3 separate regions of the Homo sapiens genome follow, and all the other regions are linked to region 2. Evidence: fine-mapped expression QTL. A gene starts in region 2. Each other region holds a variant in brackets. All regions are shown on one strand. Distances are from middle to middle. Region 1 overlaps DEPTOR (DEP domain containing MTOR interacting protein). Region 2 holds the start of DEPTOR (DEP domain containing MTOR interacting protein). Region 3 overlaps DEPTOR (DEP domain containing MTOR interacting protein).

The links. PIP is the estimated chance that this variant, and not a neighbour inherited with it, causes the effect.
Region 1: its variant is the best candidate, but not a certain one, in a credible set for the expression of DEPTOR in whole blood (TOPMed, PIP 0.87).
Region 3: its variant is the best candidate, but not a certain one, in a credible set for the expression of DEPTOR in whole blood (INTERVAL, PIP 0.78).

What each region holds. Positions count from the first base shown.
Region 1 is chr8:119,953,758-119,961,086 of GRCh38, forward strand. The region is part of intron 3 of DEPTOR (DEP domain containing MTOR interacting protein); the gene reads left to right. Among named protein-coding and RNA genes, the nearest start is that of DEPTOR, 84 kb to the left of the region's middle. The variant C/G (reference allele first, on the strand shown) is at 3,688.
Region 2 is chr8:119,871,378-119,878,706 of GRCh38, forward strand. It overlaps DEPTOR (DEP domain containing MTOR interacting protein), which reads left to right and starts at 2,345. Exons shown (of 9, transcript NM_022783.4): 1 at 2,345-2,591. The coding sequence starts at 2,470. RefSeq lists enhancers at 2,172-2,466, 2,207-2,707, 2,383-2,642, 2,708-3,208, 2,843-2,942 and 1 more and a silencer at 2,191-2,363.
Region 3 is chr8:120,046,431-120,053,759 of GRCh38, forward strand. DEPTOR (DEP domain containing MTOR interacting protein) reads left to right here. Exons shown (of 9, transcript NM_022783.4): 9 at 3,146-4,488. The coding sequence ends at 3,274. Among named protein-coding and RNA genes, the nearest start is that of COL14A1, 75 kb to the right of the region's middle. RefSeq lists enhancers at 1,176-2,035, 2,036-2,895. The variant G/A (reference allele first, on the strand shown) is at 3,210.

The DNA.
Region 1 (7,329 bases), 82 kb after region 2:
GGGTCTTATGACCTACAGTCAAACAAGATAGGTCAGATAGCTTCTTTTTTTTTTTTTTTTTTCTTAAGACAGATTCTCACTCTGTCACCCAGGCTGGAGTTCAGTGGCACGATCTTGGCTCACTGCAACCTCCACCTCCCCAGTTCAAGCAATTCTCCTGCCTCAACCTCCCGAGTATCTGAGATTACAGGTGCCCACCACCACGCCCGGCTAATTTTTTGTATTTTTAGTAGAGATGGGGTTTCAACATGTTGGCCAGGCTGGTCTCAAGATCCTGACCTCAGGTGATCCACCCGCCTTGGCCTCCCAAAGTGCTGTGATTACAGGCGTGAGCCACCATGCCTGGCCAAGGTAATGGTTTTAATATTTGGGTGAATGAATAATTAACTTTTTTTTTTTTTTTGGAGACAGGGTCTCACTCTGTCATCCAGACTGGAGCACAGTGGTGCAATCACAGCTCACTGCAGCCTCAAACTCCTGGGCTCAAGTGATCCTCCCACCTCAGCCTCCTGAGCAGCTAAGACTACAGGCATGTGCCACTACACCCAACTAATCTTTTGGTATTTTTTGTTGAGATGGGGTTTTGCCATATTGCCCAGGTTGGTCTTGAATTCCTGGGCTCAAGTAATCCTCCCACCTTGGCCTCCCAAACTGCTGGGATTAAGGTGTGAGCCAGCATGCCCAGTCTGTTTTGCTTTTAAAAATAATTGATCATATTAACACATGACTTGTTTTTTAAAGCTCTCTTTCTAAATTCTGAAGCATCTTTTTGACCTAAGCCCCACAGGCCATTTTGTCTCCCTCCCTGGCTTTTGCTCCTGTACATCATTCACATCTATTCCCAGGTTACACAGGGCCTCCTCAGCTCTTTTGAATTTTTTTTCCCAGTGTACAAGGAGATCGCTATCAGCTTATTTCTATTCTTGTACTGGCCCCTAAATGTAGTAGTTCCTTCTATTGTAGTGCTGCCTTCCCTCTAGGTTAATACGGGTCTGGGAAATCTGAGTCAGATATAGATCCAGGAAAGGTGGAAATCAGCTCACATGCACAAGCAAAACCTGGTGAGTGCTTGCAGCAGGCAAATATTGGTGTGTGTGTGTGTGTGTGTGTGTGTGTGTTTTGAGACAGTCTTGCTCTGTTGCCCAGACTGGAGTGCAGTGGCACAATCTTGGCTCACTGGAACCTCCGTCTCCTGGGTTCAAGCGATTCTCCTGCCTCAGCCTCTTGAGTAGCTGGGATTACAGGTGCCCGCCACCACACTTGGCTAATTTTGTATTTTTAGTAGAGACAGGGATTTGCCATGTTGGCCAGGATGGTCTTGAACTTCCAACCTGAGGTGATCTAACCACCTCGGCCTCCCAAAGTGCTGGGATTACAGGCATGAGCCACTGCACCCGGCCTCTATGATTGAATTTTAAGAGTTATTATGTTCTGGATGCAAATCTGTTATTAGACATAGTCTTTGCAAATATTTTCTCCCATTCTGTTCTTGATGGTATTGTTTGTAGCACAAAAGTTTTTAATTTTGAAATAGTCCAATTTGTCTATTTCTCTGTTATGTTGCTTGTGCTTTTGGCCTCCTATCTAAGAAAACATGCCTAATCCAAGCCTATGGAAACTTGCTACTTACGTTTTCTTTCAAACATAGGAGTTTTATAATTTTAGCTCTTAATGTTTAGTTCCATAATCCATTTTGACATAATTTTTTTCCTTTCTTTTTTTTTTTGAGTCAAAGTTTCGCTGTTATTGCCCAGGCTGGAGTGCAATGGTGTGATCTTGGCTCACCGCAACCTCTCCCTCCTGAGTTCAAGCGATTCTCCTGCCTCAGCCTCCCAAGTAGCTGGGATTACAGGCATGTGCCACCACGCCCAGCTAATTTTGTATTTTGGGTAGAGACGGGGTTTCTCCATGTTGGTCAGGTTGGTCTCGAACTCTTGACCTCAGGTGATCCACCCACCTTGGCCTCCCAAAGTGCTGGGATTACAGGTGTGAGCCACTGCACCCTGCTGACATAATTTTTATATAAGGCATGAGGTATATATTAAAAACCACTGAATTGTACGTGTTAAATAGGTTAATTGTATGGTATGTGAATTATCTCTGAGTAAAGCTGGAAGAAGAAGGAAGGGGAGGGTGCGGGAGAAGAGAAGGAGAAGAACTCATCTTGGCAGCATCTGCTTCCTCTTTCTTGAGCCCCGCATCACCAGGTCCAGACTTCCTTACTGGAGAGAGGCTATTTTGAGGGGTACCGCAGAGCCAACGATCCACTTCTGGCCATCATCTGCATGTAATTGTGAGTGATCCCAAGCTAGAGTCATAGAGGAGCTGCCCAGGTGAACCCCAGACAATGCATACAATACTAACATATAATTAAATGATGGTTATTTTAAGCCACCAAGTTTGGGAGTAGCTTGTCATATGGCAAAAATAATTGCAACAAGTAGTAAGTCAAACTCTTGCTTTAACATTGCGACTACATATTAATCCTAAAATAAAATCCCACGAAAGGCGTGGTCTTCAAAATAAGAACCTGGATGGGGACATTAGTTGATTATAAGGGGAAGTGAAATAAGGAAGCGCTAAGGCTGGTGGAGCATGTTGTAAATGGCAAGTTGATCCAATCCAGGCAGGCATGCCAGCTGGCCTCAGTCCTAAAGCTCACACTGGCAGAAGCAGCTAACCAGTCACTTGTCCAGAGGCCACCAGATACTTAGTAGGAGCTCTAGAGGGCTGGCAGGTCATGTTTCTAGTTACAAGAAATGACACAAGTTAACCCCATCCACTGGCCCTCCCCATTCCCTGAAAGGAAATTCACTGAACTGGAAGGGACAGAGTGGTCAGAACCAGGGATAAAGGCCAGGAGTCTGTGTCTGTGTCTTAAATGGAGACTATCAATAGTGCCAAAGTCTCTTGATTATCTCCACACAGGTCTCCTTTTTTTTTTTTTTTTTTAAGAGACAGGGTTTTTTGTTTTTTTTTTTTGTTTTTTTTTTTTTAGATGAAGTCTCATTCTGTCACCCAGGCTGAAGTGCAATGTCACAATCTCAGCTCACTGTAACGTCTGCCTCCTGGGTTCAAGTGATTCTCCTGCCTCAGCCTCCCAAGCAGCTGGGATTATAGGCACCCACCACCACACCCAGCTAATTTTTTTGTGTTTTTAGTAGAGACGGGGTTTCACCCTGTTGGTCAGGCTGATCTTGAACTCCTGATCTCAGGTGATCTACCTGCCTTGGCCTCCCAAAGTGCTGGGATTACAGGCATGATTCACTGTCCCTGGCCAGAGACAGGGTCTTGCTGTGTCATCCAGGCTGGAGTGCAGTGGCACAATCATAGCTCACTGCAACTTTGAACTCCTGGGCTCAAGGGATCTTCCTGCCTTAGCCTCCCAAAGTGCTGGGATTGCAGGTGGGAGTGAGCAACTGCACCCAGCTTGGGGTTGTTTTTAGTATATACTTGGATAATGATGTATAGCAGGAGAATGCATATAATTAAATTTAATTTATTCACTTAGCTTTTTGAAAACCTACTGTGCTAGGAAAAAACTGTGAACCACATAGACAGGGACTCTGGTCTCAAAAAGCTTCTAATCAAGTGAGCAAGTAATTCCCCTAGGCTTCGAGAGGGACCTTAGAAATGGTACATGGTCCAGATTTGTAGGAATTGCAGATTTCTTAGAGAAAGTGATAT[C/G]TAAAACCAGAAAACTGAGGACGCTAGTTTTTCTTCCATTTTGTCCTCCAAGACAGCTTATTTGAGGGTCAAAAGAAATGAAGGAATGGTGGTATTTCTTGCCTGGGCATGCACATGGGTCCTTCTATTTTTTTTTTCTTTCTTTCTTTCTTTTTTTTTTTTCAGACAGAGTCTTGCTCTGTCGCCCAGGCTGGAGTGCAATGGTGCAATCTTGGCTCACTGCAACCTCCGCCTCCTGGGTTCAAGCGATGCTCCTGCCTCAGCCTCCCATGTAGCTGGAATTATAGGCACGCGCCACCATGCCCGGCTAATTTTTGTATTTTTAGTAAAGACAGGGTTTCACCATGTTGGCCAGGATGGTCTTGAACTCCTGACCTCAAGTGATTCGCCCACCTTGGCCTCCCAAAGTGCTGGGATTTTACAGGCGTGAGCCCCTGCTCCCGGCCTCTATTTTCTTTTCTAGATTCTTGTCATCATTCCATGTGGCTTTATTCTATTCAGTTTATTCCCTGGAACTTCAGTGTTCATCCATCATTCTGTTGTGACTTTCCGAGCTATGTAACATGCCTCAGTGTGTGTGGTTTCATGTATCTTTGCCACTGCTTATTCATACAAATGTGTTCCAGCTATCTATTCCTACAAAACAAGTCATACTAAGATTTAGCAGTCTAAAACAACAATGATGTGTTATTTCTTCTGATTACATGGTTTGCGTGGTGGTTACTCTATTGGTTTCATGTGGGCACATTCATCTGCTTGCTGAAGGGTCAGCTGGGCTGGAAGGTCCAGGATGCCCTCATTCACATGTCTGAGAGCTGGTGCTTGCTGTTGCTTGGACAACCTGGTCCTCCTCCTGTGGCCTCTTCCCCTCTAATAAGCTAGACCTGCCCCCTTTCATGGTGATTTCAGGAGGGCATTCCAAGGGGCAAAGGTGGAAGTTGTAAGGCCTCTTAAAGCCTCACCTTAGAAGTTGCATAATGTCACTTTCATTGCATCCTGTTGGTCAAAGCCAGTCACAAAGCTAGGCCAAGTTTATCACCTTAGAAGTTGCATAACGTGGCCGGGCATGGTGGCTCACACCTGTAATCCCAGCACTTTGGGAGGCCGAGGGTGAATCACTTGAGGTCAGGAGTTTGAGACCAGCCTGAACAACACGGTAAAATCCCATCTCTACTAAAAATACAAAAATTAGCCAGGTGTGGTGGCATGCACCTGTAATCCCAGCTGCTCAGGAGGCTGAGGCAGGGGAATAGCATGAACCCGGGAGGCAGAGGTTGCAGTGAGCCGAGATCACGTCACCGTACTCCAGCCTGGGTGACAGATCGAGACTCTATCTCAAAGAAAAAAAGAAAAAGAAGAAGAATAACCTCACTTTCACTGCATCCCGTTGGTCAGAGCAAGTCACAAAGCTAGCCCAAGTTCAAGGGAAATAGAAATGGACTCAGCATCTGGATGGGAGAAGCAATGAAGTCACACTGGAAGACACATGAGGAACTACTGTGTCCATCTTTGCATACAGTTTCCTAGAGAGTGTTTTTATGTTTCTGTCACTTGTGTTGACATACGTGTGACAGTTGTCCTTACCACCTTCTAAGAAGGGGTTGTCCATTATTATATTAAATAAAATTCATATCGCTTATACCAACTCTGCTGTTACTAACTTTGGGAAAGAAGCCTGTTGCCTGTTGGCTATTTCTTTTTCTTTCTTTCTTTCTTTTTTTTTTTTTTTTTTTTTTGAGACAGAATCTCGCTCTGTCACCCAGGCTGGAGGGAAGTGGCGCCATCTCGGCTCACTGCAAGCTCCGCCTCCCGGGCTCACGCCATTCTCCTGCCTCAGCCTCCTCAGCAGATGGGACTACAGGCGCCCACCACCACGCCCAGCTAATTTTTGTAAATTTAGTAGAGACAGGGTTTCACCGTGTTAGCCAGGATGGTCTCGATTTCCTGACCTTGTGATCCACCTGCCTCGGCCTCCCAAAGTGCTGGGATTACAGGCATGAGCCACTGCGCCCGGCCACCTGTTGGCTATTTCTAAGCATGGATTAAAGTGCAGAAGAGGTTTGATTTGGGAAAATATCTAAATAATCTTTTTTTTTTTTTGAAACGGAGTCTTGCTCTGTCACCCAGGCTGGAGTACAGTGGTGCGATCTCGGTTCACTGCAACCTCTGCCTGCCAGGTTCAAGTGATTCTCCTGCCTCAGCCTCCCACCACAGTAGCTGGGATTACAGGCATGCACCACCACACCCAACCAATTTTTGTATTTTTAGTAGAGATGGGGTTTCACTGTGTTGGCCAGGCTGGTCTTAAACTCATGACCTCAAGTAATCCACCCTCCTTGGCCTCAAAATGCTGGGATTACAGGTGTGAGCCTCTGTGCTTGGCCTCTAAATAAGATTTTTAAATGACTTCTGTTACATGCTGAATGAGAAGGTCTTTAATGAGTTCTATTAGATGCTTATACCTTGTATACTCTTATACTCTTAATAAGGGTGTACATTCATGGGCCAGGCGCAGTGGCTCACACCCGTAATCCCAGCACTTTGGGAGGCTGAGGTGGGCAGATCACGAGGTCAGAAGTTCGAGACCAGCCTAGCCAACATGGTGAAACCTCATTTCTACTAAAGATACAAAAATTAGACATGGTGGCACACGCCTGTAATCCCAGCAACTCAGGAGGCTGAGGCAGGAGAATTGCTTGAAGCTGCAAGGCAGAGGTTGCAGAGAGCCAAGATCATGCCACTGCACTCCAGCCTGGGTAACAGGGCAAGACTCCCTCTCAAAAAAAAAAACAAAAAACAAAAAACAAAAAAACAGTATACATTCATATACTTAGAACTTCACTTGCCCCCAAGATTTTTGATGATAACAACAATTTAGTGAAGGAAGTGGAACAGGTATTATCTTCCTCATTTAATATGAGTTTGGGAGACAGTGAGAAGGTACATGACTAGTTTGTAGCAGAGCTGTGTTTGGGTCCCAGGCACCTAATTTCTAATCCTGAGTCCCTTCCATGGATTTCAAATAGAACTCTAATCATTCTTCTAGGAAGAGAGAAGGGACCTTAAAGGAATCTCCATTTTCATCAGTTCATAGCTATGAAGGCAGAAATTCATCTTGCCCCAATGTAGGTACAATGATTACTTACATAGCATAACACTTTATGTACACTGTACATTATTTCTTATTACAAAGTTGTTTCATTCACACTCATGATTTTCACAAGAGCTGGGTAAGGATACCATTATAGTCTTGAGAAAAACAAGGTCGAATAAAAGAAAAGTGGCTCCCAGCACGTTGGAAGGCTGAGGCTGGCGGATCACCTGAGGTCAGGAGTTTAAGACCAGCCTGGCCAACATGATGAAACCCCGTCTCTACTAAAAATACAAAAATTAGCTGGGCTTGGTGGCACGTGCCTGTAATCCCAGCTACTTGGGAGGCTAAGGCAGGATAATTGCCTGAATCCGGGAGGCGGAGGTTGCACTGAGATTGCACCATTGCACTCCAGCCTGGGTGACAAGAGTGAAACTCCATCTCAAAAAAGAAAGAAAGAAAGAAAGAAAAGTGGCTTGCCTTACATCTCAAAGTTATTAAGTGACTCACTGGGATAAACTTAAATCTTTGAATGCATAGTCAAATGTTCT
Region 2 (7,329 bases):
TAAATCATGCTCTCTCACTGTCACTGGAACAATAGCATCAGGTATTTTCCTAACTCGAATTTTCTTTTCTTTTCTTTATGTTAAGGTGCTTTTTTATCTTAAAGTTACAAATTTGTGTTACTGACATGGATCTTGGAAACTTTACATAATAGAAATTTTAATGTTATTTATTTTTTCTTTTTTTTAAGTGTCAGGGTCTTGCTCTGATACACACACTGGAGTGCGGTGGTGCAATCATAGCTCACTGTAACCTTGAATTCCTGGGCTCAAGTGATCCTTCCACCTCAGCCTCTCAAGTAGCTGAGACTACAGGTATGCACAACCATACCTGGGTAATTAATTTTGTTTTTTTTTTGTAGAGACAGGGTCTTGCTATGTTGCCCAGGCTGGCATTGAACTCTTGGCCTCAAGCAGTCCTCCCACCCTAACTTCCCAAAGAACTGGGATTACATTATTTCATTTAAGCCACGCAACATCCCTATGAAGTAGAAATTATTATTCCTGTTTTATCGATAGGAAAGGGAGGCCAAGAGAAATAACTAGCATAAGGTTGCAAAATTAGCAAACGACAGAATTGAGATAGAAATTGCATGTTTGACTGAGAAGCCCGTGCAAACTCTTGATATTCTATTTAGTAGTTATAAGATTAAAACATGAGCAACAGACACCTTTTAATCTCATTAACTCTGGGACTTCTGTTGAATGATTTATGTATTTTATGCAGAATAAGGCTCTTAGAATCACAGTCACCTAGAACTATGTCTGCCTTGGTCTACATGTCTATTGTGGCCTATTTAAAAAATTAAGAAACTTAAATAATTTCTTTTGGCAAAAGAGTCACCTAACATCTGTCTCATGCAGATTCAGAGCTGGTCTGCTCCCGGATGTTCAAGGGAGTTGGGCAACTATTCTCTTTCTGGAGTGGGGCTGAGTATGGCCAGGGTTTAAGGGCTACCTAACTTTCTAGGCAGATTACTTCATCTTTCTATACTTAAGCTTTCTCATTTGTAAGTTGAAAATAATACCAAACTCCAGGGTTTTGTGAGGATAAAGTGTTTGGCACAATGTAAAGCACAGAATAAATGCTCAACACACATGAATACTGCCATAAACATTACTTCGCCTTCCTGCAGACCAACTCCGACTCTGCATGAAACAGAAAATCAGAACATTTATTTGGTACTAATCAAATTTCTTTTCATAATCTTTTACGGATAGACAATACCATTGTATCCCCATTTTAAGAGGCAGTCTTTCAGTCTTTTCAAAGCATAACTTTGAAGCCAGAATTGCCTCGGTTAGATTTCTTCTTATTATTATTATGATGATTTGAGACGGAGTCTCGCTCTTGTTGCCCAGGCTGGAATGCAATGGCACTAACTCCGCTCACCCGAACTCGGCTTACAGCAACCTCCGCCTCCCGGGTTCGAGCGATTCTCCTGCCTCAGCCTCCGAAGTAGCTAGGATTACAGGCATGCACCACCACGCCCGGCTAATTTTGTATTTTTAGTAGAGACGGGGTTTCTTCATGTTGGTCAGGCTGGTCTGGAACTCCTGACCTCAGGTGATCTGCCCGCCTCGGCCTCCCAAAGTGCTGGGATTACAGGCATGAGCCACGGTGCCCGGCTCTTCTTATACTTATTATTTGCTTGCCTTAGACAAGTAACTTCACCTCTCCAAGCCTGCATTCTAATGCAAAACGAACACCAATACCTATTTTATGAATTATTGTAATAATTAAACGAGGTAATACCATACCTGAAGTATCTTTAATGCAGCAGATGTCAAAAGTGGTAGCCGCAATTATTTTTATTTTGTAAGGGAGGATTAAACACATTTAAATAGGACATCACAGGAGCGGAGCTGGATCCCAGGTCAGCCTGATTCCTAGGCCGGCGTTCCTTATTGATTACAACATAAGGCAAACAAGTCGTCTTTGGAGAGAGAGGTTGGGGAGAGAAGAATGTTTAATTTCTCCATGCCCTTCAATGACATGTATAACCTTCACTGTTGACCATTTGGCCAGATTGTTGAATTATGTTTTGCTCTCTGGCAACTTGGGGTGTGGAACGTACAATAAAAACGCCTTCACACTAATAACCTCCAGGCCTGTCCCCAGGATTCTACAGCATGAGCTTTGTGGGTAAAGAGAGCTCACCAAATTCAGCCTCCAGCAGCACACACAGCTCAGTAGCAGCGCCCCGCCCAGATGTTTATATTTTCCTCCATCGGCCCCGCCCCCCGACCATGAGGGGCTCTAGCCACGCCCCCAAGCTCAAGTTTCTGGGGCCGGACTAGCCCAGCGCGTCTGCCTACCCATAGGGATTCCCTCTCCAGCCAATCCAGTCAGAGCAGCGGAGCTGCCCCGAACAAAGATGGCGCGGGAAGCGTCTGTGAGGGCAGACTGATCCGAGCACCCAAACCCTCGGCGGACAGCGGAGCCAGTGGTAGCCGCACGGCCCTAAAACCATGGAGGAGGGCGGCAGCACTGGCAGTGCTGGCAGTGACAGCAGCACCAGCGGGAGTGGCGGGGCGCAGCAAAGGGAGCTGGAGCGCATGGCTGAGGTCTTGGTCACCGGGGAACAGCTACGGTAAGGCAAGAGACACAGCGGGTGAGCTCACGATGGCACTGCCAACGCGTGCCCGCTGCAGTCCTGCGCGCACGCGCTCCCTGGCTCGTGGCTTGCGACTCGCGTGGGGCGCCGGAACGGCTGCGGGCGCGTGGATGGTCCTCGGTGCGCCCGCGCTTAGCTGCTGCAGCCTCGGTCCCTGAGGACTCGCTCGCCAAGCGGGGCTGCCTGGCAGAAGCCGACGAGCGGGTGGTGCGCGCTGCGCCCTAGCCTGGCTGCTGCAGTCCTGTGCCGGGCAAAGTCCCTGCCACCCACCGCGCTGTCCGTCTTCCCGTGTACCTGGACGCCGCCAGGCCTCCCGGCTGACAGCCTGCGCCTCATCCGCGAAGAGAGCAAGAGGGGTCGCTGTGGGGTCCCGAGGCGACCCCAGCCCCTCTACTCCTTGATAAAAGGAGCAAGACCAACGATAGTCTTCACTAGGTTTTCCTTTTTGCTGACAAGTCTTCCTTCACTCCCCTGAGCCTCGGTGTTTTACATCTGTAAAACAGGGCTGATTCAAGGGCTTTTTGTGAGGTTAAACTGAGAGAGCATTTCTGAAACCCTGCACCTATCAGTTAATTGGCACATCGTCCTCAATCATTTGGGTCCGCAAGGGGGCGTGGAGGCACCTTGTCGGGCTGCCTTGAGGCTGTGCCAACTCCCCGGGCTCGCACGTTTTGGGCAGCAGGATCCATGGGGACCCTGGCTCCTGCAAGAATTAAGACTTGCGGCGTCTCACGGAACTTGGGAACAAGGACGACCCCCAGAATCCCCCTTGCCATTCCCATCCCTGTATGGTCCTTCCTCTAGGGCTGTTTGGGAATAGTACTTATGGTCTAACTGGTTCTGCAGCTGCCCTTCGTGTGGTTATAAATCAGTTTGCCAGGAAAAAGAAAACCCAGCTCTGCAGCGTTTGAGCCACAACTTGTACGCGGGCCCCTGTTACTTCTAGTTCTTAGCCTGAATTCCCCAGCTTGTTTTGGTTTCTAAATGTCTGTGTTTCAGGACCTGAAAGAGTGTCTTGCAAAGGTCTCTGAAGGAGACCAATATTGGAAGTCAGAATTAACTGATTTTTAATGTTACAAAAGGCAAATTGCACCTATCGATTCTTTGTTGATTTTTAAAAATACGTGGTCAGAATTAAAGGGAATAAAAACTTTTTTTCCTTCATCAAAAGTACTTTCTAATGAAACCTGTCACGCGGTGCCCGTGTGAAGAGACCACCGAACAAGTTTTGTGTGAGCAATAAAGCTTTTTAATCACCTGGGTGCAGGTGGACTGAGTCTAAAAACGGAGTCAGCAAAGGGAGATGGGGAAGGGGTTGTTTTATAGGAGTTGGGTAGATGATGGATAGTGGTGTAAGTTTGTGAGGTGCAGTCCAAGAAGGCGGGGGTGACTTCATAAAGCCCTGTTGTAAAGAGTAGAGTAAGGAAGAAGAGACCTGATATCCCTTGGAGAATAAATGTTGAAGGAGCAGGAGGGTGTCTTGCTGAGAAGATTCAAAGGAGAGGCTACAAAGTAGAAGGTCATCAATATATTGAATAAGGTGAGAAGCAGAGGGGTAGAAAGAAAGTAAATCATGAGAAAGGGCTTGGCTGAAGTAATGAGGGCTGTTCCTGAAGACTTGCGGCAGTACAGCCCAGGTAAGCTGCTGGGACTGATGGGTGTCAGGGTCAGTCCAGGTAAAAGCAAAGAGAGGCTGGGACGAGGGGTGCAGGGGAATAGTGAAAAAGGCATCTTTAAGATCAAGAATGGAATAGTGAGTTGTGGAGGAAGGTATTGAGGACAAAAGAGTGTACAGGTTTGGCACCACAGGGTGGATAGGCAAAACAATTTGGTTGATAAGGTGCAGAACCTGAACTAACCTGTAAGACTTGTCCAGTTTTGGGACAGGTAAAATGGGGGAATTGTAAGGAGAGTTTGTAGGCTTTAGAAGCCCAAGCTGTAGCAGGCGAGTGATAACAGGCTTCAGTCCCTTTAAAGCCTACTGTGGGAAAGAAAGTTTAATTTCTCTGCTCTTCATTACTGGGCCATCTTTTTAAAAGTCTTCTGTTGGATAGGGTTACTTATTTTTCATTTATTTTACAAATATTAAATTGCATGATGGCTCTTTTTGTCCAGCAAGTACTTTTTCCTTCAAGATGCAGTTTAAATGCCTCTTCCTTGCAGTCCCCAGAGCACTTGTTATTCCCCACTTTTCTAGCGCCTCTCTGCACTGCAGCAGTTTTGAGAGCCATCCTTGTCATGCAGGAATTAGACCTGGGTTTGAATGACTGCTCCACCATTATGTAGGCAAGTGTCAGCATTAAGTTGTTTCAAGGAAGACTTTAAGCTAGACTGAATCTTGGCTTTGCTACTTACTAGTGTGGGACCTTGGACAAGTGATTATGCCCGTAATCCTGGCCCTTTGGGAGACCAAGGCAGGCGGATCCCTTGAGGTCTGGAGTTCAAGACCAGCCTGACCAACATGGTGAAACCTCATCTCTACTAAAAATACAAGAATTAGCCGGGTGTGGTGGTGCATGCTTGTAATCCTAGCTACTTGGGAGGCTGAGGTGAGAGGATTGCTTGAACCTGGGAGGCAGAGGTTGCAGTGAGCCAAGACAGTGCCACTGCACTCCAGCCTGGGCAACAGAGTGAGCCTCCATCTCAAAAAAAAAAAAAGAAGAAGAAGGATGGGTAATAATGGAATTTACCTCATAGTGTTACTATGAGGATTAGATGAGTTGCGCTTAGGGTAGTTTCTGATAGATATGTAGTAAGCACCAGGTCAACATTAGCTAAGGTAGAGTTCTGTGACCTTGGACAAGTAAATTCACTTCTCTGAGTCTCTGTTTCCACATTTGAAAAAGACAATGAAGATGAATGTATTTCATGGAGTTGCGAGAATTTGCCCCTGGGCTTCATGTATTAATGAGCATTCAACAAATAGTTCCTGGAATTAATTAGTATTATTGGTCTCTCTGCATCACTGCATGTGACTTCCAGCCAAGCAAGATTGGGCAGGAAGGATTGGGTGGTGGTGAAGAGCGCAGGATATAGAACTAGGCTGCCTGGGTTCTTATTCTGCCTCCACCATTTATTCTGTAACTTTAGGACAATATGTTTAGCCTCTCTGTGTCTCAGTTTCCTCTTCTACGAAATGTTATTCTGATGACACTTCTTCAGGAGCTCTGTGAGGATTAAATGAGATGCTACATGTAAAAGGCTTAGGAAATGTTAGCCACTTAATTCTACTTTGGAAAATTTTAATCATTGCTGTTTTTTATCTCAACTGTTTTGGCACTGTAACTAGCACATAGTAACTACTCAGTAAGTAGTTAAATGAATATCGTAAGTATTCAATATACTTCTGTTAGTACAGAGCAGTATAATAGTCAGAATTTAGGAATTAAAGCGGTCGTATGCCTGGTTTCCTAGTTATTGGAGGGTTGGAAGTTCAGTCATTCTTGTCACTTTCACAAAGAGTTCTTCTGTCTGTAGCTCCCCTCTCACTGCAGGATTGTAAGTGCTTTGCAATGTCCAGGCCTCCTGCCTCTAAGTGCTTCACACACTCTCAGTTCCCCTCTGCTTTCTCTCACTTTGCATTACTTTCTGGGTCATCAGAGATGAGGTAGAGGTGATAAGAGGAAACCAAGGACTGGGATTTGAAATAAAAAATTTAGCCTCTAGGCCCAGTTCTATCAATTTCTTTTTCTTTCTTTAATTGTAGCTATGCCCTCTTGAGCAAGTCACTTAACCTCTCTAGTCCTAAGCATCCTTCCCTACAGAATGGGAATAATATCTTCCCACATAAGATTTGTGGTAGTGGATCAAATAGGGTACAGCATGGGAAGAAACTTTGTAAAATAAATCGATAAAGCAAGAAGAGTGTTGTTATGACTATTGTAACCTCCAGATGTGAAATTGGGGGCTGGCTCCACAATCCTGACGCTTCTTTTTTTGTTTGTGTTTTGTTTTTTGAGATGGAGTTTCACTCTTGTTGCCCAGGCTGGAGTGCAATGGCGCGATCTCGGCTCACCGCAACCTCTGCCTCCGGGTTCAAGAGATTCTCCTGCCTCAACGTCCCAAGTAGCTGGGATTACAGGCACGCCCTATTTTCTATTTTTTAAATTTATTTTTCTTGAAGCACAAGAATCACTTCAACCCAGGAGGCGGAGATTGTGGCTAATTTTGTATTTTATTTATTCATTTAGTTATTTATTTTTAGAAGAGACGAGGTTTCTCCATGTTGGTCAGGCTGGTCTCCAACTCCCGACCTCAGGTGATCCGCTCACCTCAGCCTCCCAAAGTGCTGAGATTACAGGCATGAGCTGCACCTGGCCAATCCTGACACTTTTTTTTTTTTTTTAAGACAGCATCTTCACTTTGTCATCAGGCTGGAGTGCGGTGGCACTATCTCGGCTTACTGCAACCTTCGCCTCCCAGGTTCAAGCGATTCTCCTGCCTCAGCCTCCCGAGTAGGTGGGATTACAGGTGCGTGCCACCACACCCAGTTAATTTTTTTTGTGTGTGTGCTTTTAGTAGAGACAGCGTTTCACCATGTTGGCCAGAATGGTCTCGATCTCTTGACCTCGTGATCCGCCCGCCTCGGCCTCCCAAAGTGCTGTGATTATAGGCGTGAGCCACCATGCCCGGCCAATCCTCACACTTTTTAAAGGGCGGTTGGTTGTATAAGGACAAGAAATTAACTAACAGACCTAAAAATATCTCTTGCTTC
Region 3 (7,329 bases), 180 kb after region 2:
TTCATATAAATGGGCTCTTACACTCTATGGTCTATTCTGACTGGCATCTTTTACTTAGCATAATGTTTTCAGGGCTCACCCATGTTGTAGCATGTTGTATGTTCCATTTTATGGCCGAATAATATTCCACTGTATGGATATACTGAATTATATTTCTCCTTTCATCTGTCTTTTTAAATTTTTTAAATATATAGATATATATATTTTGTAGAGACGGAGTCTCACTATGTTGTCCAGGCTGGCTCAAGCAATCCTTCTGCCTCAGCCTCCCAAAGTGTTAGGATTACAGGCATGTGCCACCACGCCCAACCTCCTTTCATCTGTTGACAAACATTGGGGTCCTTCAGTTCTTGAAGCTTCAAGCCACCCTGTCTTCAACGCTTTTCCCTCTGGTGGCCATAGATCAGGGACCACAAACTCACATGCCTGTCAGCCAGGTGTTAGGAAGATAGGAAGCCGTAAGGACTGTGGCAAATGAGTGTCCATGCCATGTGTAGAACAGGCAGGCTCTACTCAGCCATGGCCACATGGCCATCTACACCTGGTATGATCACAGCTTCTGATTGTCCCAGAGAAGCCAGAGTCTGGGTTTTTATTTATTTATTTATTTTGAGACAGAGTCTTGCTTTGTTGCCCAGGCTAGAGTGCAGTGGCAGAATCTCGGCCCACTGCAACCTCTGCCTCCCAGGTTCAAGCAATTCTCCTGCCCCAGGCTCCTGAGTAGCTGGGATTACAGGTGTGCCACTACACCTGGCTAATTTTTGTATTTTTAGTAGAGATGGGGTTTCACCATGTTGGCCAGGCTGGTCTTGAACTTCTGGCCTCAGGTGATCTGCCCGCTTCGGCCTCCCAAAGTGCTGGGATTACAGATGTGAGCCACTGCACCCAGCCCAGAGTCTGGATTTTTATGCAAAGATTTTCCAAATTTTATTTTATTTTTTACTTTTATTTTTTGAAATGGAGTTTCACTGTTGTTGCCCAGGCTGGAGTGCAATGGTGTGATCTCGGCTCACTACAACCTCCACCTCCCGGGTTCAAGTGATTCTTCTGCCTCAGCTTTCCAAGTAGCTGGGATTACAGGCATCCGCCACCACGCCCAGCTAATTTTTTTGTATTTTTAGTAGAGACGGGGTTTCACCATGTTGACCAGGCTGATCCACCCGCCAGGCTGATCCACCTCAAGTGATCCACCTGCCTCGGCCTCCCAAAGTGCTGGGATTACAGGCATGAGCTACTGTGCCTGGCAGATTTTCTAAATTTTAAATGCTGGTCAATTAAAACAAACATGATGTGTGACAGAGGACACACAATTGTGGTTAAGACTAAATGCTGAGGCCAAGTGTGGTGGCTCACACCTATAATCCCAGCACTTTGGGAGGCCAAGGTGGGAGGATCACCGGAGGTCAAGAGTTCAAGACCAGACTGGCCAACATGGCGAACCCCCTCTCTACCAAAAATACAAAAAATTAGCTGGGCATGGTGGCACACACCTGTAATCCCAGCTACTCGGGAGGCTGAGGTGGGAGGATCGCTTGAGCCTGGGAGATGGAGGAGATCGTGCCACAGCACTCCAGCCTGGGCAACAGAGGGAGACTCCATGTCAAAAAAAAAAAAAAGTAAATGGTGAAATGTGATCCCTGAGCGATGCGGAGACATGGCTAATCTCAGGGAGCCTGCGAAGGGTCAGCTGGAGAGGGCACTCACCTGGCAACTCCTGCCCTCTTATTTGGCAGTGCAAAAAGGCTATTCATCTTTTTGGAAAAAGAAACCCCTGTATCTGTGGAAAAGACAAGGGATTTGAAATTTCCAAGTCTAGGGTCTAAAGCTCTGGGTTGGGAAGGAGGTGAAATTCTTCTCATTCTTTGGCTCATGAGTCTGCTGCAGCAGAAAAAAACAAAGCCCAGGCTGATGCCTGCTAAATTGCAAATTACTGCTAAATTGTCTTGCAAATTACTGTGGCCTAGTTCAGGATAGATTGTGACCTGTTTGTGTGACCTTGATTATGACTGTGACCTCCACCATGGTTGAAAACTGCTGATTTTGTATAAGATGTACCCTGAATCCATGAAGACAAATTTGTGGAACCAAGAAAAGAGAAACAGTAATAGTGTGATCTTATGTGGAGAAAACACCCTAGTAGGTTGGGGAGTGCAAAGTATCAAGGTTTATGACAACAGCGAGTGTTTATTGAGTAAATAAGCAGTCTGTGTACTACTGCCCGCTTTCCATTTTGTTTTGCCTGTGACCGTGAAAGAAGTGGGTATTTTTTGAAAGGAAAGAGATTAATAGTACTCAGCATCGGTGTAGTGCTTGGTGTTTGCAAAGAGGTTTCAAATGCACTATCTAGTGTGAGCCTGTGAGAATAGGCGTTTTTACCTGTTGTACAAGTGAGGCATTTATATCGTTGAAACATAGAAGAGGAGAAATTACTTGATTAATGTATTCCACCAAAGGGACCTATAACTTAAATCTGTATCTTTGATTCTAAGTCCCCTCATCTTTTCCACAGTGACAGAGCTTTCCAATACTCTTCCCAGTACTCTCCAATTTTGTTGTATCTAAGTAATAAGTATAGATATTTTTGGACTTAATATCATGTTTAAGTTTACATCGATATTACCCACACAGAAAACAATAAAAGGAAATGATGGTTCCCAAGGTGTTTTGGTATTTTTTACATTCTTTGGTTGAGTCCTCAACACTAATAATTAATAATTGGGAGCAAGCATGCCTGTGAATTACTGCAAGTAGAAACTATATATGTCATTAATTCTTACAACAGTCTTATAAGGTAGGTATTACTCTTATTATTATTATTAATTCTTATTTTAGGGTTGAGGGAAATAAAGCTCAGAAATTTAAATACCTAGCTAGTATTTAAATACTAGCTAAAGCTAGTATGTCTCTGAGTTAGGATTTAAGCCAAATTTTGTAAAACACTAAAACGATTTTTTTTTTTTTAAATTATACTGCCTTCCAGAAAATGTGTAGCTCCTTGGAAATTATTGAATTGGAGTCGTCAGCTGGATACATTTGGATATTTTAAGAATGAAGTTACCTGTTAGGGCTACACACTGTCTTTATTAAAGCTTTGTGCAAAACCAGGCGCTATAATAGATGCTCTTTCTTTGCATCTTTCCTTTAGGTCTGTCAGTTTGTCGTCTCTGTCAACGGGCTCAATGTCCTGCATGTAGACTACCGGACCGTGA[G/A]CAATCTGATTCTGACGGGCCCACGGACGATTGTCATGGAAGTCATGGAGGAGTTAGAGTGCTGAGCTCCTGGGCCTCCCAGCCCTCCAGTGGCCTGTGGGTGAGGGAAGCCAGAATGACACAAAGCAATGCAAAGACAAGATTGCCATGCAAATGGATGGTTTTGGACATACGAGTCTTCTCCGCACATACATGTCTAAAGTTGAGTTTTATACACTGAATGTGGAAGAACCGGGTATCATATCTTTTTTAAAAAATGTCAGTGTAGAAAACATTTGGGAAACCATTTTCCTACATGATAGAACTGCCTTACTAGATTTCTATTTGTAGCTCTCATTCATTGTTTTTTATCTTAGTTTGCAGAAAGGTGTTGAAATGCTTCTCTAGCCCAAACAGCGACATGCTAAAGTCCCCTTCTTCAGAGTCAATAGAGTAGTTGTTAAAGGTTTTAAATTGTACTTTCTCCAAAATTAGCATGCAGCTATTTAATAGGGAATCTAGATTTCACCAAGATTCAAATCAAAGCAACATTTAAAGGAATAAGACCTGTTCACTAGCATTTTCAAGGGGGTTCTAAAGCATTCAAGTGCTTAAAAGCCATAAAAAATGACTTCTTAATTCCTGCCTTTAGTGTCAACTTTTAAGTTAATACAGGTTTCAATTGTGGCATTAGGAAAAAAAAAAACCTTGTGATGCTATGGTTGGGGGTAGTTAGGGAGAGACTACATGAAATTGTGTGCCCCTATTTTCTTTCTGATCCTAAATCATTTTGTTTTATAAATCAGCTATAGCATCTTTCTAGAATTAATCCTGAATATGTTGAATGTTAAAATAGAGAAGTTTGTATATACACATAATTAAAAATCAACCCTTCTGGCAAGATTTCACTTTGAAGGTGTCTGTTTTTAAGGGAAGGCTAAAACTTTGCTGATATGTGATAAAACTTGAACTCTAAATTGCCTCCTTAGCCTGAATTTTTACTAGCTTTCTAGTGTAACATATTCTAAGGACATGACATGCTGCTTATTTGGGGGGATTATTTTTCACCAAAATGATCATCTTGTGTTGTAACTTTTCAGCTCACTTGTATATACGCACGTTTTCATTTTTGGTCTAGAAAATAGTGCATTTTGGGGCTCAGCGTGCAGAGGAAATTCCTCAAAGTGCCAAATTAGGCAGTCAGGAAATACTAAATTCTTCATTCCAAATAATGGATCTGAATGATGACGTTAATTTTTTATCATGCATTAACAAAATAAAATATGAGAATTGTACCACAGCCATTTCTTTTCATTAGGTTATCGTAATGTATAGGTACTGGTGGAATGGACCTACCGTGCTAAATATGTTATAGACATATATATATATATATATATATATATATATATTTCTGGTAATCCAACTTTTCTGATTTGTAGCTTTAGTCAGAGAATAGGATTTTGGAGTGACAGAGAATGTCTAACAGTAATACTGTTGATATACATTTGAGAAATACTATCACCTCTGTGTGGGTGTGCATTTGTACTGTATGGCAGGCTCTGTGCATTTAATATATATGATATCCTTTAACCCTCAATGCAACCTTGCAAGGTAGATATTAACGTCCACATTTTTCAGATGTGGAAACTAAGCCTGAGCAAGTTTTAAAATGGTCTCTAAATTCACACGGCTGCAGGAACTACTAGGTGAAATAGGCTGAATGTAAACACAGGTTTAACGCTAAATCCCATGTTACTCCCCTCAACTTTTCCCCATTTAAGGACCTTATATTGAGGGTTTATTCTGAGCCAGGCTGTATGCTAAGACTTTACGCCATTTGTCCTTATTTACCTGTGAAGTCAATACGGTCATTATCTCCATTTTACAAATGAGGAAACTGACTTGTAAAGTGGTTAGTCATATGCCCAAGGCCACAAAACTAATAAAGTGGGAAACCTTACCACTGGCTTAAAAAAATTTTTTATAGCATCTTTAAAAGATGAGTCTTAAATGCTTTCTGTGCTCAGGTATTCATTAAGTGACAAAAGAAGAAGGAATACCTTTCGAGAAATGGTATCTCCTTTTGAGAAATGGTATCTTCTTCTTGCCTGCTTTACCCATTATCTTGGACCCTGGCATAATAGAACTTCCCTTCAGCCAACCTAAGCACCAGAGAAGCATTTCTCTGTATCTATTGCACACGATCTCCTCTTGGCTGTGAGGAAGGAAGGAAAGAAGGGAGAGAGGATTTCCTTCTTTGGTTCCCATCACCCTAAGTTCAAAAGCCAAAGGCCATGAGAGCTTTCCCTTAGCTACTCCTCCAGCCCACCCCTGACATCTTTACACAGCAATTAAAAAGACTACCCCTACCTTCCTGGGGACCCTATCTCACTCCCTCCAGCCCTTGCACATGTACTTTCTTCTTCGTGGAAAGAAGAATGTTCTGTCTTACTGTTGCCTGGAAAATTCTTTCTTCATGTAAACTCCCTTTAGAAATTATCTCCTCTGAGAAGCCTTCACCAGCTCCCCAGTTCTAGGATTGATGCCTCTTCTCTAAATTTACATGGATCCTTAAGTCCTCCCTATGCCCCGTTAGAGCACTGATGACATTTACTTTGAAATTCCCCTGTTACATGTCTGTTTGCCTAAGTAGACTCTAAGCATCTGCAGAACAGGGGCTATGTCTTAGTATCCAGGGTATTTTCTTCACCTGGCACAATTCCTGCCACAGAGTAGTGTGTCAGCTCTCTATTGTTGTCTAAAAACCCACCTCAAGGGTGGGGTGCAGTGGCTCATGCCTGTAATCCCAGCACTTTGGGAGGCTGAGGCAGGCGGATCACTTGAGTCCAGGAGGTCAAGACCAGCCTGGTCAACATGGTGAAACCATGTCTCTATTAAAAAATAGAAAAATTAGCTGGATGTGGTGGCAAGCACCTGTAATCCCAGCTACTTGGGAGGCTGAGGTGGGAGAATCGCTTGAACTTACAAGGTGGAGGCTGCAGTGAGCCAAGATAGTGCCATTGCACTCCAGCCTGGGCAACAGAGCGAGACTCCAACTCAAAAAAATAAATAAGTAAATAAAAAATAAAAACCTGGCCAGGCACAGTGGCTCACGCCTATAATCCCAGCACTTTGGGAAGCCGAAGCGGGTGGATCACTTGAGGTCAGGAATTTGAGACCAGCCTGGCCAACAGGGTGAAACCCCGTCTCTACTAAAAACACAAAAAATTAGCTGGGCGTGGTGGTGCACGCCCGTAATTCCAGCTACTTGGGAGGCTGAGGTGGGAGAATTGCTTGAACCCAGGAGGCAGAGGCTGCAGTGAGCCGAGATTGTGCCACTTCACTCCAGCCTGGGCGACAGAGTGAGACTCTGTCTCAAAAAAAATAAAAATAAAAACCCATCTCAAATCATGGCTTAAAAAAAAATAAAAATAAAAACCCACCTCAAATCACGGCTTATAGCAACACCCTTTATTTGCTTATAATCCTATGCTCTGGCAGTCTGGGCAGAGCTCTGCTGGCGTGATCCACCACTGCTCCATGGGTGCCAGTTGGGACTCCACACACCTTTGTGGTTAGTGAGCAGATTGGTTGGAGGCTGATTGACCTTGACTGGCCTCATGTATGTGTCTCAAAGTTGGCTGGGGCTGTCGGCTGAAATTCCTTAGTTCTACTCCACATGGCCTTTCCCCATGGCCAGCCCAGGCTGAGATCTGAGATTGAAGAGGGTGAGAACAGAAAGTACAAGATCTTCTTTTGACTTGAAAGCTAGCCCAGAATCGAGGGAAATAAACCCCACCTTTTGATGGAAGGAGCTTCAAAGAATTTGTAGTCATTTCCAATCCACGAAGAGTAGGTACCCACTATTTGTTGAATAAAGCCCTATTGAAAGCTTTTTAGCTATCCAGATGCAAATTACTGGCCAACCTTTGGGTAGAATTATAAAATTCTGCCCAAAATTCTACCAAATTACTGGTACTTGTAAAATTCTACCAAATAACTGGCCAACTTTTGGGTAGAATTGTAAAAATTAAGTTGTAAATAAAGCCTATTGCCTAACAGGAACTTCAAAGTCAGAGAATCCTAAAATGATTGTGCTACACAGGGCCACATAGAGCACAGCTTTGTCTTTTTTTTTTTG